Homo sapiens: one gene and its partner. The protein of the gene in region 1 purifies or fractionates together with the protein of each later gene. This does not show direct contact. Each region holds a gene or a part of one and is shown in the gene's direction. Other genes may lie near its edges.

Region 1 (7,090 bases):
GAGATGTGTCCTGTGGCCCTGGTGAGTTGGTTTCAGCGTTGCTAGGAGGGTTGCTGGAATGTTCCCTGCAGAACTCCATCCCCCACAGAGCTCCCGGCCCACAGTCCACCATTCACGTTACGTGCCTTGCATTTTTGTGGTTTCTGCAGAGATTCTTACAAAGGGTGAGAGAGGCACAGGCGTGGTTTGCCTTTGACCACTGGCAGAAGTCTGAAGGTGAGAGTAGAATGGAGAAGGACCCAGGAGAGTGCGGAGTTGAGGGAGATAAATATTTGCAGGCTACTTAGCAAAACACCCAGAGCTGACCTTTGTCGAGTACTTTCTGTGGGCACAACAGCAAATGTTTTATGCAGCGTGATGTCATTTAATCCTCACAATGACACCAGGTGCCATTAGCATCCCCATTTCACAGATGAGGAAACCGAGGCAGAGAAGGTGAGTGATTTGCCCAAGGTCCCACAACCAGTAAGAGGCAGAGCCCGGAGACAGGCCTGATGGTGGCTCGAGAGGCTCGTTCTTGGCTCCTGGGTCTCAGTCCTGCTCCCGTGACGAGCCATCCCCTATGGGGACCATGGTGCCTGTCCTGTGTGCGGGCCACTGCCCAGCTTCTCCCAATCAGAGCAGGAAGATGGTGGGTTCAGCCTGGCCCCACAATCACTCCAGCTGAGGGCTGGCCTGGGGCTCCTGACCAGGCTCTCAGTAGCACACTGGTCCAGCAGGGCCATCCTGCAGACCGGAGCAGGTCCCGCCCTCAAGGTGGCCACTTAACAATCACCCACAGCCTTGCGCTCACCGATGCTGGGCCCTGGGCTCAGAACCGACTGTGTGGTCTCATCATTAGCTGGCAGGTGCCATCATTACACCGGTAACATGAGAGGCTTCAAGCACTAGGTCTCAAATAAGTAGGCACAGAGGGGCCTGCCTCCCAGTCTAATGAGGGGGAAATAAGGGAGATGTGGACAGGGTTGGGAGGTGGGTAGAGTGTAACCAGACATTTATCACATGGCACAACTCAGAACGCTGGGGAGCAGAGTCAAGGGGCCACTGTGACAGTGGATGAGGGCATAATCTGGGTGGGCTGCCTGGAGGAAGCATCAGCCAAGCTGAGATCTGGAGGAAAGGGACTCGGAGAGGGAAGGAGGAAAGGGTCACCACGGGTCCTTGGCACCAGGCCGAGGAACGAGTGCGTCAGAGTGCTCCTCCGATGAACTTCAAGTAAACAGGCAGGGCTCGGGGGAATGTCTAGGCCCCTACCCTGCCTGCCAGCTCTGGCTGGCACCAGCACGGAGGCAGGAACGCCCTCTCCCCCGCCCTGATCCTCTCCCCCACAGCTGTTTCTGCCTCCCAGCACCACAGCCCCGGCAGGGTGGGCAGCAGGGCCTCCAGGAGGCCCGAGGTGTTCTCCCCCTCTTCCTGAGGAAGCTGAGGCACAGGGAGAAGAGGCTATTGCCCACTGGCCTGGCCTCCCTGGGCAGTGCCCCCAGGCTGGGGACAGAGGAAGACGGAGAATTCTGTGTCTGGAGTGCTCCAAGGTGGTGGCCATGGTGGCAGTGAGTCACCCCCTCTACTCATCAAGCTCCTGCTTACACCATTCAGACTGGCAGGGGTGAGGCTGCCCCGCCTCCAGGAGGGGCATCAGGGCAGGGCAGAGGCCATGGCTTGGGGTTAATTTCTGTGCGGCAGGAAGAAGCATGGCGCTCTGCCTGCCTGCTCACCCTCGGGGGCTGTGGTGGAGCAGCTGTCCCCAAGCCCACACCCAGTCCTGCAGCCGCCTCCAGGTCCATGGCAGAGGGGAGTGGTGCGAGGGTCTTCATGTGTGTCTGGGAGTGCTCACTGTTGGGTGAAAGGGGTTGCAGGCAGCCTCAGTCCCTGTGGGGTCATCTGAGTGGGTCCCTGTGTGTGTATAAGGTAGAGGTGTCTGCAAGCCCCTGTGGGTGCAGGCAGGTCAGGGGTGCCCAGACCCTGGGGCGGCTGGGTGGTGCCCATGAAGGAGGGGCAGCCCTGGCCACCCAGTTCATGCCACCCCATCTGGCAGGATGGACCCCCTTGGGGACACGCTGCGGCGACTGCGGGAGGCCTTCCACGCGGGGCGCACGCGGCCAGCTGAGTTCCGGGCTGCGCAGCTCCAAGGCCTGGGCCGCTTCCTGCAAGAAAACAAGCAGCTTCTGCACGACGCACTGGCCCAGGACCTGCACAAGGTGGGCTGGGGTTGGGGGTATGAGAGGGTGCACTGGGGCAGGGGGGCATGGAGGGCAGCTGGGACAGCAGGGGATGAAGACACCTGCGCCCTCCATGAAGCGGGGCTAAAAGCAGCTCCTCCCCTAGGCCAGAGCCACCCTTGCACATTCATCCAGTCACTTATTTCTGTATTCATGCAGCAACTATTTGCTGAGCACCTACTATGTGCCAGGTACTGTTCTAGGCTCTGGGGATATAGCAGAGAATAAAACACAGTTCCCATGCCTACGAAGATGACCTTCTATCGGAGACAATAAAACAGCAAATAAATAATTGCACAGCAAGGCCGGGCATGGTGGCTCACACCTGTAGTCCCAGCACTTTGGGAGGCCGAGGTGGGCGGATCGCTTGAGGCCAGGAGTTCAAGACCATCCTGGCCAACATGGCGAAACCCCGTCTCTACTAACAATACAAAAATTAGCTGGATGTGGTGGTGGGCACCTGTAATCCCAGCTACTCAGGAGGCTGAGGCATGAGAATCGCTTGAACCTGGGAGGTGGAGGTTGCAGTGAGCCAAGGTCACACCACTGCACTCCAGCTTGGGCAACACAGTGAGACTCCATCTCAAAAATAATAATAAAGATAATAATTACACAGCATATTGGGTTGAAATATGTGCCCTGGAGACACACCCAGGGTGAAGGGGAGAGAGGGGGCCAGGATCAGGGTGCTGTTGTATATGTGGGGGTCAGGGAAGGTTTCTCTGAGAAGGGGGCTTTAGAGCAGAGACGTGAAGATGGAGGGGAGGCTCCCCATGGATGCTGGGGAGATGGCAGCGGGCACAGCACGTGCAAAGGCCCTGAGGCAGGAGGTGCTGGGTGTTTCTGCTTGAGGAGCAGCAAGGAGGCCAGCATAGCTGTCGGGGGTGGGAGAGGAAGAAACAGCAAAGATGAGGTCTGGGGTATGGGCCACACTATGTAGGGCCTCGGAGGCCGTGAGGCCTTGGCCTTCTCTCTGGGTACAGCAGGCATCATGGCCTCTGTCTAGACCCTGAAGGCTTGGGGCCTCAGCCCCTCCCAATCCCAGTGGCAGCCAAGGCAGAACCCCAAGAAACACACTTCCCCCAACCCCTCACCCATCAGGGCCCATGCACCTGCCTGCCCCTGCCTCAGGACACCTGCCCCTGCCTCAGGACACCACCTGCCCCTGCCTCAGCACATCTGCCCCAGGGGCTGCCCCCGGCTCCTATTCTCTGGACAAAATATCTCCTCCCTTTGCCTTGAAGGCTGTAGTGTTCAGACCTTCCCCCAGCCCATTGGGCTCCCTGGGGACTGACTCCCCCGCCACCACTGAGCTTCTGCCACCGGCCGCCTGCCGGCCTTCATGAGACTTGACCTGACGTCTGTCTGGTCCCTTTTCTCCCTTCGGCTCTGATTCCACCTCCTGCCTTCCCATCCCAGCTGCAGGAGCGGGGCCCTACAAAGGCAGCAGTAGCCCAGAACATTCAACCTGGTCCCTCCCTCTGGACCTGGTCACCCCCCTGTCCCCACCCTCAGCAGGCAGCATCTGCCCAGCGTCACGTGCACCCTCTCAGTTAACCCTTTGGTGAATCTGGTTGGGCAACCACACCCAGTGGCCCCCAGAAGAGGCTCAGAGAGAGTGTGTTCTTGCCCAAGGGCATGCAGCCAGGAAGAGCAGAGCCAGAGTTTGAACCTGGCTCAAAATAGCCCAGTCTCCCAAAGTCAGGTCCCAGGTGACCTAGGAGGTGTGGCGGGCAGGCCACCAGGCTCATGGGGCCAGAGCACAGGCTGTGGGAAAGTCCGTGTGGAAGGCACCTTCCCCCAGCCTCAGTGGCTAGGAGGTGCCAGTGGGCGTGGCGTCTTCCTCCCTCTTGGGGCTCAGCTGTAGCCCTGGCCTTGCCCCTGGTTCGCTGAGTGACCTCAGGCAGGGCATCTCCTTCTCTGGGCTTCGCTGGTCCTCTGGCCCATCCAGCACCCCACTGGCCCGTCCCCCTCTGCCCTGACCCGGGAGAGCCTGCACCCCATAACCTCAGGCGCTGCCTCAGCCAGGGAGCCAGCCTGGCCCCAGTGTCCCTGACCTGTTCTCCAGCGGCCTGCAGCCTGCTGCCTGGCTGGTCTCTCCTCCCTTGGGGCGCAGAGGGCAGGGAGCACTGGCTAGCCGAGAGCAGGACAATGTCCCTATTGATTCGGGTCTCCTCACTCCTGCTTAGAAGCCTGACAGTGGCCCTGGCCCCTGGGCTGTGGGAACTGACAGCATTTACCTAGGGGTGGCTGTGCCTGTGTCTCCTGTGGACCAATCTCCACCCTGCTCTTTGGGAGACTGAGGTGGGAGGATTGTTTGAGGCCAGGAGTTCAAGACCTACCTAGGCAACACAGCAAGGCACTCTGCAAAAAATCAAAACAAACTTTTTTTGAAATTAAAAAAAAACAAAACCCTAAGTCAGATCCCATCCCTGCTCTTCTCAGGAGTCCTTGCCTGGCTGCCTGGCCCCCTCACCTTGCCCACTCTGCTTCTTGCTAAACAGGAGCAGAGCAAGCGCACAGCCACCTCGGGGCCTTTGCAGCCGCCAGGGCCTCTGCCCAAAGTATGCCGCCTCCCAGTACCCACGACTTGCTTGTTCCTTGACTTCAGGTCACTGCTCCAATGTGACCGCCGCCTGGAGACCTGCACTGACCGCTTTGTAAAAACAGCACACACACACATGCTCATGTGGATGTATACATGTGCACACCTGTGCACGCCCACAGCCACACGCTCCAGCAGTCTCCACCCCCACCCTGCTCCATGATTTCCCTAGCACAGCCACGTCCTAATGGAGCCGTCAGCGTTCTCACTTTCACATGGAACGACTGCCCCCTGCAAGGTCGGCCTCAGGGCCGGTCCCTCTGTTTGGCACAGAGACAGCACCTCACACAGGAAGCACGCACTGAACATGGAGTGAGTGAGTGAACGAATGAATGAAAATGAATGAATGAGTTGTGGAAGCAGGCCCTGCCTGGAGGAGGCTGTGCCCTCCTGCCAACTCTGGGAATCCTGGCCCACCCTGACCCCACCCACTTCCTGCAGTCAGCCTTCGAGTCGGAGGTGTCTGAGGTTGCCATCAGCCAGGGCGAGGTCACCCTGGCCCTCAGGAACCTCCGGGCCTGGATGAAGGACGAGCGTGTGCCCAAGAACCTGGTGAGCCGGCCGGGCTGAGGCGGGCAGGGGGCTCAGGGGATATTTGCTCCCACAGGGTGGCCCCTCTGGGTGGGAGCTGGCTGCTGAGGGGCCGGGGTGCTGAGCACTTAATTTCATCCCCGGCTCCCGGCCCAGGCCACGCAGCTGGACTCCGCCTTCATCCGGAAGGAGCCCTTTGGCCTGGTCCTCATCATTGCGCCCTGGAACTATCCGCTGAACCTGACGCTGGTGCCCCTCGTGGGAGCCCTCGCTGCAGGTGAGAGCTGGGCCTGCCCCTTCCGGTCACCCTTCTCCGCTCGAGGCCTCAGGGCCACCCATGGATCCCAGGAGGACATGGGAGAACTGGCCCAGGTGGCAAAGAGGACTGTCTGGTCCACCGTCCCCGGGCTGTGTGGCCCTGGGCCCGTCATGTTACCTCTCTGAACCAGGTTCTGCATCTGAAAGTGGGTGAGGCTGATGCCTGCCCTGCAGGTGTGTGGAGACCAGGAGCTGGCTACGCCTCCTCCAGCTCTCTCCCTGCACTGCCCTGCAGGGAACTGTGTGGTGCTGAAGCCATCGGAGATTAGCAAGAACGTCGAGAAGATCCTGGCCGAGGTGCTGCCCCAATACGTGGACCAGGTGAGCAGGGCTGCCGGGCAGGTAGAGCGGGAACAGGCAAGGCTCAAGGGCTGGGCAGCCCCTGGCATGGAAGGGCCTGTCAGTCAGACCCGAGTCCCCACCTCAATCCTGCCTCTTCTGAGTTGTGTAAACTTGACCAAGTCACCGCCCCTGTCAGCCTCAGTTTCCCTCTGAGGAGCAGCGAGGGCAGCCTGTTGCCCAGGGGTTCCGTGTCTGCCTCCACCTGGCCCTGGCATCAGCCCCTCCAGCGCCAGCTGGACTCCAAGCTGGGCCTGCCAATGCCAGCCAACCTTGGGGAGCTCCCTTCTCCCCACTTTGCCTCCACCCAACCCTCCTAGAGCCCTGGCTGGGTCAGGCCAGGCGGGGTGGAGGCAGGGCAGGGTCCAGGCAGGGCGGGCTGCTCCCTTGTGTTCTCGGAGCTGGGGTCCCAGAAGGAGCCTCACCCATCCCGCCTTGCAGAGCTGCTTTGCTGTGGTGCTGGGCGGGCCCCAGGAGACGGGGCAGCTGCTAGAGCACAGGTTCGACTACATCTTCTTCACAGGTGAGGCCGGGACGAGGGTCGGGACAGGCTGGGGTCGGGGAGGACAGCTGCTCAGGGGTCCTGTCCCTAACTCTGGGAGTCCACAGGGAGACTGAATTCTCCTCTCTCTCTCTCTCTGGACCAGGCTGGGAGCAGTCCTGGACCCCCAGGACCCCTTAGGAAGGGATGGAGTCCCATGTCCAGGGCCAGCCCACTGTGCCAACCACAGCGTCAGGAACCATAGCCTCTGCCCCCACTGTCCCCAGACCCTCATACGTGACCCTGCTGCCCCCCAGGCTCTTAGACACCACCCTACTGGTGCCCACAGCCCTCTCTGCAGGCAGATGAGGGACTGGGCCTCAGTGTCCTGCCCAGGGTCACCCTGCTGGCCAGGATGGGGACAGGCTGGAATGTGCACACAAGCCCTTGGAGAAATCCACGCCAGAGGTCACTTTTTTTTTCTTTTTTTTTGAGACAGAGTCTTGCTCTGTCACCCAGGCAGTGGCACAATCTTGGCACAATCTTGGCTCACTGCAACCTCTGCGCCTCCTGGGTTCAAGTGATGCTCATGCCTCA
Region 2 (7,494 bases), on another chromosome or scaffold:
CTAGAGGTAGAGTTAAGGAGTTGATATTTTATTTTAAGTGGGAACCATTGCAAGGTCTTAGCAGGAAAGCAACAGGATCTGATTTAAGTTTCTCAAAGTGTACTCTGGCTGCTGTGTGGAGAATGGATTGCAGAGGCAAGAGAATTAGGAAGGAAGGCAGGTAGGAGGCTCTTCTGGGGACAGGGTGGGAGTTGACGGTGGTTAGGAGGTGGAGGAGATGGAGCAGGAGGCAGGATGTCTAATAGGTCCTGATCATTGAGGGTGAGGAAAGGGAAGGATCAAGGACACTTCCTGGGTGACTTGGAGACCCGGATAGGTGGTGATGTCTTTTACTGCTAAGGGGAAGAACACGGTGGGACGTGGGAAGGAACAGTTAACAAACATTAATTGAAGACCCCCTGTATGCTTGGTGCTGAGGGACACATAGAGAGGTGTGGAGAGAGGCCCCACTCTGCCTGGCTATGGACAGTCCAGCTACAGAGATGAGATGCTCACATGAAGCAAGAGAAAAAGGTGTGATACCAACCATCAAGATGCAGTCCCATGAGATCTGGCTGGCGTCCTCCCACCTACAAAGCCCTCTCACACATTATCTATTCGATCCACATCATTACCAAATAAGATAGGTAGTATTATCCCCATTTTACAGATGAGAAAACCAAGGCTTGGAGAGGCTGTGACTAGCCCCAGCTCAGCCAGCCAGGTTGGATGCAAATCAGCAGAAGCTTTAGAATTTCTATACAGGCATCTGCTCTGCAGTAGGGTGGGACGGGGACTTGCTTTGAAGCCTCATTTTATATCAAGCACACTGGTTTTACTTGGTTTGGGCTTTGGCAGTGGCTGAGAAAGGGGTGGGAGAAGCCAATGGGGCTGGAAAGGAGAGTATAAAATCTATGAAAGTAATTTATTGGTGATATCCATTGAGATACACCCAGTTCTGTCTGTCTCCAAGCCAGGGTTCTTTCCTATTCTGGATGGAAGGAGTTGTTCCAAGATAGCAGAAGGTAGTATGGAGTACATTGACTGTGGAAGAGGCAAGGCTTAACTCAGAGTGATCTCTGTAGGACTTGAGGGCCAGGGAGGGCAGCCCCAGGAGGGACACAATTTAGGAGCAAAGGTGTGGTGGGCTGTTAATTGAAGTTTGCTGAAGGCATCAGAGACCTCTCAGTTCTACACATGGGCAATCTGTACTGGTGGCTGGGACCTGCCTACTTAGGTGGGAACTCTGGGTCAGTCCCTGGGGAAGGCTCCTCCCCAGCTTTGGTGGACATGGGCCTGCCTTCTGCTCCCAGGTCTCAGCCTCCAGGCAGGGACTTATTCCTTGAAATCTTGCAATTCAGGTCTGGCCATCAGGTGAGCCCAGGATGTGCCCTACTAGACTGAGGCATACTGTAAAATAAATCCAGGCTGGCAAGGCATTGTATCTCTCTCCTCTCCCTCCAGCCATGTCCAGTGCCCTTTTACACAGAGCCCCTCAGCAGAGATCACCCCCACCTGCCTACCTCAACCAGTGGTTCTCAACCGACAGGACACAGAGTTTTTAATGATGTCCCACTGTCCCTGCATGTATCGTGGGCAGTTTCCTCACTGAGAGGCTCCATCAGTGAACATCTGGTGTGTTTGTTATAACTTCCTTCCCTTTCTCTCTTTGTCCAGCAACCTACTTATTCTCAAAGCTCTGTTCAAGCATCACTCCACTGGCTTTCCCACCCCACCCTGGCTGGTGTTTCTCCTTGAGCTCCTTTGCTCCCTGTGCCCACCTTCATTTACCACGTGTCATTTCTGCTGTATATGGTGTGAGGGGCCTAACTTTGATTCTTTCCAGATTGGTAGACAATTAAGTCATTGGCATTTATAAAACATCTTTTTCTTATTCATTTGAACTGCTACCTTCATTGCACACACCCTCTCCATATATGCTCAGACCTACCTCTGTTTGTCTGTCCTGGTGGCAATTCCATGCTATTTTAATCCCAATGGAATTATAATAAGTTTTGTATAGTGTGTCACCATCATTACTGGTTTTGTATTTTAGTTGACAAAAATTGACATTTGTTATGATATTGTTTTCCCGTGCAAGAACATGTTCAGATCCTATTGCAAATTTATATCCTGTGGGTAAGTTTTATAGATTCTACTATTAAACTTATTATTGTTATTAAATTTATTTATAAATATTTTATAGATTTTGACACTTCTGTGAATCAGACATTTCCTTCACTTCTATTTCTAATTGGTTATTGCTAATGTAGAGAAAAGCTATTCATTTTTGTACATTCACCTTAAATCCAGCCATATTACCAAACTCTGTTATTATTTTTGATCTGTTTTTCTAGAAAACCTAAAGACAATAGGGGATGGGGCAGTGTTTGGAGAAACTCAGATTCTGGGCACTGCAGTGCATGTCCTCCTGGGGACATGAGGCATAGCGAGAAATTCATGAAACTGACAGGTCAGTTGTGTATATGGAGGCGGGGGCGAGATAAGGTGGCCCCTAACTCTCCAGAGAAGCCTCTCCTCCCCGAGGCTCAGGACCTCCCAGTCCTCACTCCTGCATCCCACTCTCACTCCCCCACCACCAAGGAGCTGAGGCACCTCTGCACATCTCAGGTGACCCTGAACAGGCTCTTTTGCAGGATCCCCAAGAGAAAGGGCTGACCACAGCAGAAACAGAAGCCATGACTGCAGCAGGGAAAGGGAGGACTTAGGGCTGGTCCATCTGAGTGCTGAGGTCCAACACTCTCAGGGGCCTCGAAGAGGTTACTAGAGCCCTCTGACACCCCTAGACCAGCAGAAGTGGCAGCACTTGGCAGAACCAGGAATAATAGCAGCCACCATGGAGTGCGTTCCCAACAGTCCTCTGAGGATTCCCCTTTACAGATGAAGAAACTGGAGTTCAGGGAAATTAAGGAACTCACTTCAGTTTACACAGATAGTAAATGGCAGAGGAGGAATTCAAACTCAGGAACCTAACTCCACAGCCTGCCGCACCCAATATTCCCACGTGGCCATCTAGGCCATTCATGTTAAGCCCACCGGCCAAAGACTGGATCCCCTAGAAACTGCAGAGCTTTCTCAGGGACCCTGGAGTTCATGCATACACCAGACATTGTCTGCAGACATTACAGTAATATGTGCCCACTTGGGTCCTGTGGTGAATTGAATGGTGACCCCCTCCCACCCCCCGCAAAGGATAACTTCACCTGGAATCTCAGAAGGTGACTGTATTTGTAATAGGGGTCTTTGCAAATGTAATGAAGGTAAAGATCTCAAGATGAGATCATCTTGGATTAGAATGTCCTTCTCAGAGACAGAAAGGAGGGGACATACAGAGACACAGCGAGGAAGGGCGTGTAAAAATGGAGGCAGGCAGAGGCTGGAACGATGCCGTTGCATGCCCAGGAATGCCACAGGCCATCCGAAGCTGGAAGCTGCTGGGAAGTATTCGCCCCTGGAGCCTTCGGAGGAAGCATGGCCCTGCCAACTCCTTGTTTCCAGGCTTCTGACCTCCAGAACTGTGAAAGAATAAACTTCTGTTGTTTCAAATCACCTGTTTGGTGGCCATTTGTTACAGAAGCTCTGGGAAACCGACACAAATGTCCACCATTCTTCTGTTTTTTTTTTTTTGTTTTTTTTTTTTTGATGGAGTTTCACTCTTGTTGCCCAGGCTGGAGTGCAGTGGCGCGATCTCGGCTCACCACAACCTCCGCCTCCTGGGTTCAAGCAATTCTCCTGCCTCAGCCTCCCGAGTAACTGGGATTACAGGCATGTGCCACCATGCCAGGCTAATTTTGTATTTTTAGTAAAGATGGGGTTTCTCCATGTTGGTTAGGCTGGTCTCGAACTCCTGATCTCAGGTGATCTACCTGCCTCGGCCTCTCAAAGTGCTGGAATTACATGTGTAAGCCACCATGCCTGGCCCAAATGTCCACCATTATTATTCTTCATAAGAAACATAGGCATTTCAAGCCATTACCAAACTTATAGTCACTATTTATCATTATCTATTTTTCTCCATCAATGGATATGCAACTATTACTATCATGAAAAGTAAATTATATTTGCAACCCCATTATCTTCTAGATGGAGAAACAGTTTGAGAGAGGGCAGTGGAGAAGCAAGAGAGCTGGTCTGGAACCCAGCTGCCTGACTCGTGAGTCATTTCTCTTCCTCCAAAGCCCTATTAAGTCTGGGGCTGCTTATGGTCCTCACCAACTACACAAAGAAAGTCAGGGTCATGCTCATCCATCAGGAGGTTCAGGGCCACTTCCCGCTTTCCTCTGTTTGGCAACACTAAGAGTCACCCTCTGATTGTTCCAGAAAAGCAAGAATTGCTAAAGGCCATTGTGTCAAGTTTGCCCAATTCATGCTGCTTGACATCTTACCCCTCCCCACCCTGCTCCCATCCCCCCCACCCAGTGCCCCTGATTGCAACACTCCTGGCTGGGGTGGGACAGGGTGGCCAGATAAAAGCAGAGCAGGACCTGGAAAGCTGGTTTGTATGGGCTGCAGCCTGCCGCTGAGCTGCATCATGGTGCGGTCTGTGGCCTGGGCAGGTGAGCCGTCGGATAGTGGGCTGGGTCTCGGGAGCTGTGGGGAGGTGGGGATGTGGATGTTCAGGGACCACTTGCTACCATTTGCAAGGAAGCAGGAGGACTCAGGAGAACTTCAGAGGGTCATTTTATCCCTCTCCATGCCTCCTGGCTTGCAGTCCCTTGATTACCTTTCCTGTGGGCTCCCCCTTAGGCTCTTTCAGCCCAAGAGACTTCATGTTGCAAGGGAAGGCTTTTCTCAACAGGCTGAAGATGACTTGACTTTCCTCTCTCTGTCCTGAAAGCCCAGAGTCAATGAGGCCCCTGCACTGGGTCTTTGTGTCTTTCCCATGTTCTTAGGTCCCTCCTGTTGGCCTTATCCAAGAAGCGCCCACTGCCAAGAACCTCTTCTCCAACCTCATATTGTCTGTCCTGCAAGAGGGCAGCCTGGGGCCAAGATCCTGGGCATCCTTGCAAATTTTCATGGAGGTTCTATTAGGTTGACAGAGAAGTCCAAGGTCACCAGGTGAAAGAGATCTCTTCGAAGGAGTCCTGTCAGACCCTAGGTCTCCAAGGCTGTGGTTGCCTACCACAGCCAGGTAGCGGAAAGGCAACAGGAAGCCATAAACGATGGGAGCAGAGGCACAGGCCCTCCCCAGGAGATGAACTCTCTCCATGCAGCCCTTCCAGATTGATTCTTTCTAGCCCCAAAACAGGCTTGTTTCTTGTTCCGAAAGAGAAACTATCTCTCTAAATAACTCACAAGTCAGCAGTTTTTCCACAATCTTCCTGAATCCACACTGCCCTTTACTGAGGTATAGAGAGGGGGCAGCCTCAGCCCATGGAACTTTCCATCAGCTTCTAGGACCAACCCAGGCCAGGAAGAGACCCCCGTGGTCTGGTCTGCATGAAGGGATGGGCACAGTGCCCTCCTGGGTCCCTTCTGAAAGGAGAAAGCTTGATTTGTATGAAATCAGCCCTCCCTGACCACCTCCTGTGCTTCCGTAAGCTGTGGGGCCTGGGAAGGTGAGAATGGCAGCATAACCCTGGCCTTCTCTCTTGTGTTGCTCCAGGTTTCATGGTCCTGCTGATGATCCCATGGGGTAAGTAGCCTCTTTCTTGGCTGCCTCAGCCCCTTCCCTGGGCTCTGCTTAATGTCCCAAAACACCTTCCCTGCCAGACCTCCCCAAGAGCTCCAGATTTCAGTGGGGACTCTCTTCCAAAGCTCAGACCCCTGCAAATGTCCCCATCTGCTACCAGCCCTCCCAGGAAGGCTCTTGCCTCCTTATCCATTAGCTGAGCTCCTGCACATCTGTGGGGCCAGCTTGCGCATCAGCCTCTTTCAGGGCTTTCCTTTCCTGGGGTTGCTGGCTCCCTCCTCTGCACTCTGTGCTCTTGCAGCACCTGTGTGTTTTACAGTACAGTACTGCCTCTCATTATTGGCTTAGGTGTCTCTCTGCACCAGTCTCAGACTCCAAGTTGCTGCAGGTAAGGAACCTAAGTCTCATCTGGTTCAGCATCCCCAGCCCCTTAGCTCTGCGAGGACAACACACTTGCTTCTGGTCTGTTGAACTGATCAGATGTGGAGCTTGAGAGAGGCAGGAGGGAGCTCCTTGTTGTGTCAAATGGAAAAGAGACCTGGGGGACCTTCAGCAACTTGAACTCCTGGTCCCCGTCTTGTCCCACCCCATTCCCTGGGCATCAGTGGCCTGGGAATGCTGGCCTCTCAGAACTTGTCCTGCGACTGTGCCTCTCACGCTGGGCTGTAGCATTGGAGGTACATTTCCCTCTCAGCCTCATAGGATGGAACAGCCGGGGGCACAGAAACAGCAAACATGGGGAAGATGAGAGGTGGAAGATTTCTCAAAAAGCTTTAGTCCAGGCTACTTCTGGGCTTTCTGCAGTATAGTAATAATAGTAGGACTTTGTGTGGACTAAGGGTTAATATATGTGAAGCACCTAGAACAGAACTTCTTCCTTGCAGTGTTCCTCCGAGTGTTTTACATATATTAACTTTAGCCCACACTGGGGTCCTGTGACACACATTGTGGAAGGTCCAATGGTCTCCCCGTTTCACACAGGAGGAAGCTGAGTCGCACAGCGAGTAAGTTGCAAAGTTGGGATTTCAACCCAGACACTGACATGCCAGAGTCCCTGCTGTTAACCACTGCACTTTATTTTCTCCATAGTACAGAAATTCATAACAATATTTGATATGCGACAGCATGACATGATAGAAAAAGAGCTTCCTGGCTCCTTCCTACATGGCCTGGGGGATGAGTTATCTGGTTTCATCCCCTCCTTCCTTTCTTTTCCTTTGGGGAGTTCACCAATTCTCCTGTATCATTGCAGGCTACACCCCAGCCCCACTAGCAAGCTGCACTCCTGGGTGACCTCTGGTTAGAGACAGTGACCACTCCGGGGCCACGTGTATGCCCAAGGTCAGCCCTCCATGCTCTCGGGTTCTAGTTGAGGCCTGCCTGAGCGGTCTCTTCCCAAAACTCTCCTATAGACACTTTGCACCCCTCCTCTTCCTCGTCCCATCCCTGTCCATGTGGGCATTGGAGGGGGTACAGACAGACCCTGCTGGGGCAAAGGGAAGTCCCAGGTTCTAGACACCAGCCACAGGCACGCTCCAGTCCAAACTCACTGCTCCATCAAGATCTTGGCATAAAATGTTGGCTCATACAAACCACACCATCATAGATTGAGAGACTGGAAGAGACCCCACAGACCACACAGTCATTATCAGATGGGGCCGGGATTGAAGATGAGATAGACCCAAAGTCTATTTTTGGCAGATGCTGGAATGAAGACTAGCATTCTTGCTTCCTGGTGTCCTGGTCAACCCTGCACAGGGCTGACCTCAGTGGGGGTCATCACCACCGAGCCCTCACTGGGAATAGACCATCCCACCCCTGCAAAGTCTTTTCACACACTGTAGGGTACTCTAGAGACAAGT

Evidence for each region. Proteins that work in one complex are often made in the same cells at the same time.
Region 2: the proteins of ALDH3B1 (region 1) and CHIT1 purify together in Homo sapiens (affinity purification with mass spectrometry; 2 studies listed by BioGRID and IntAct, with this or other methods). This does not show direct contact.

The regions. Positions count from the first base shown.
Region 1 is NC_000011.10:68,013,262-68,020,351, forward strand, and holds part of ALDH3B1 (aldehyde dehydrogenase family 3 member B1), read left to right. Parts: intron 1-2,035; 5' UTR 2,036-2,036; coding exon 2,037-2,198; intron 2,199-5,265; coding exon 5,266-5,376; intron 5,377-5,511; coding exon 5,512-5,632; intron 5,633-5,908; coding exon 5,909-5,994; intron 5,995-6,453; coding exon 6,454-6,535; intron 6,536-7,090. UniProt on the Homo sapiens protein: Oxidizes medium and long chain saturated and unsaturated fatty aldehydes generated in the plasma membrane into non-toxic fatty acids. May have a protective role against the cytotoxicity induced by lipid peroxidation.
Region 2 is NC_000001.11:203,226,674-203,234,167, reverse strand, and holds the start of CHIT1 (chitotriosidase-1 isoform 1 precursor), read left to right. Parts: upstream 1-4,494; 5' UTR 4,495-4,531; coding exon 4,532-4,556; intron 4,557-5,605; coding exon 5,606-5,635; intron 5,636-7,494.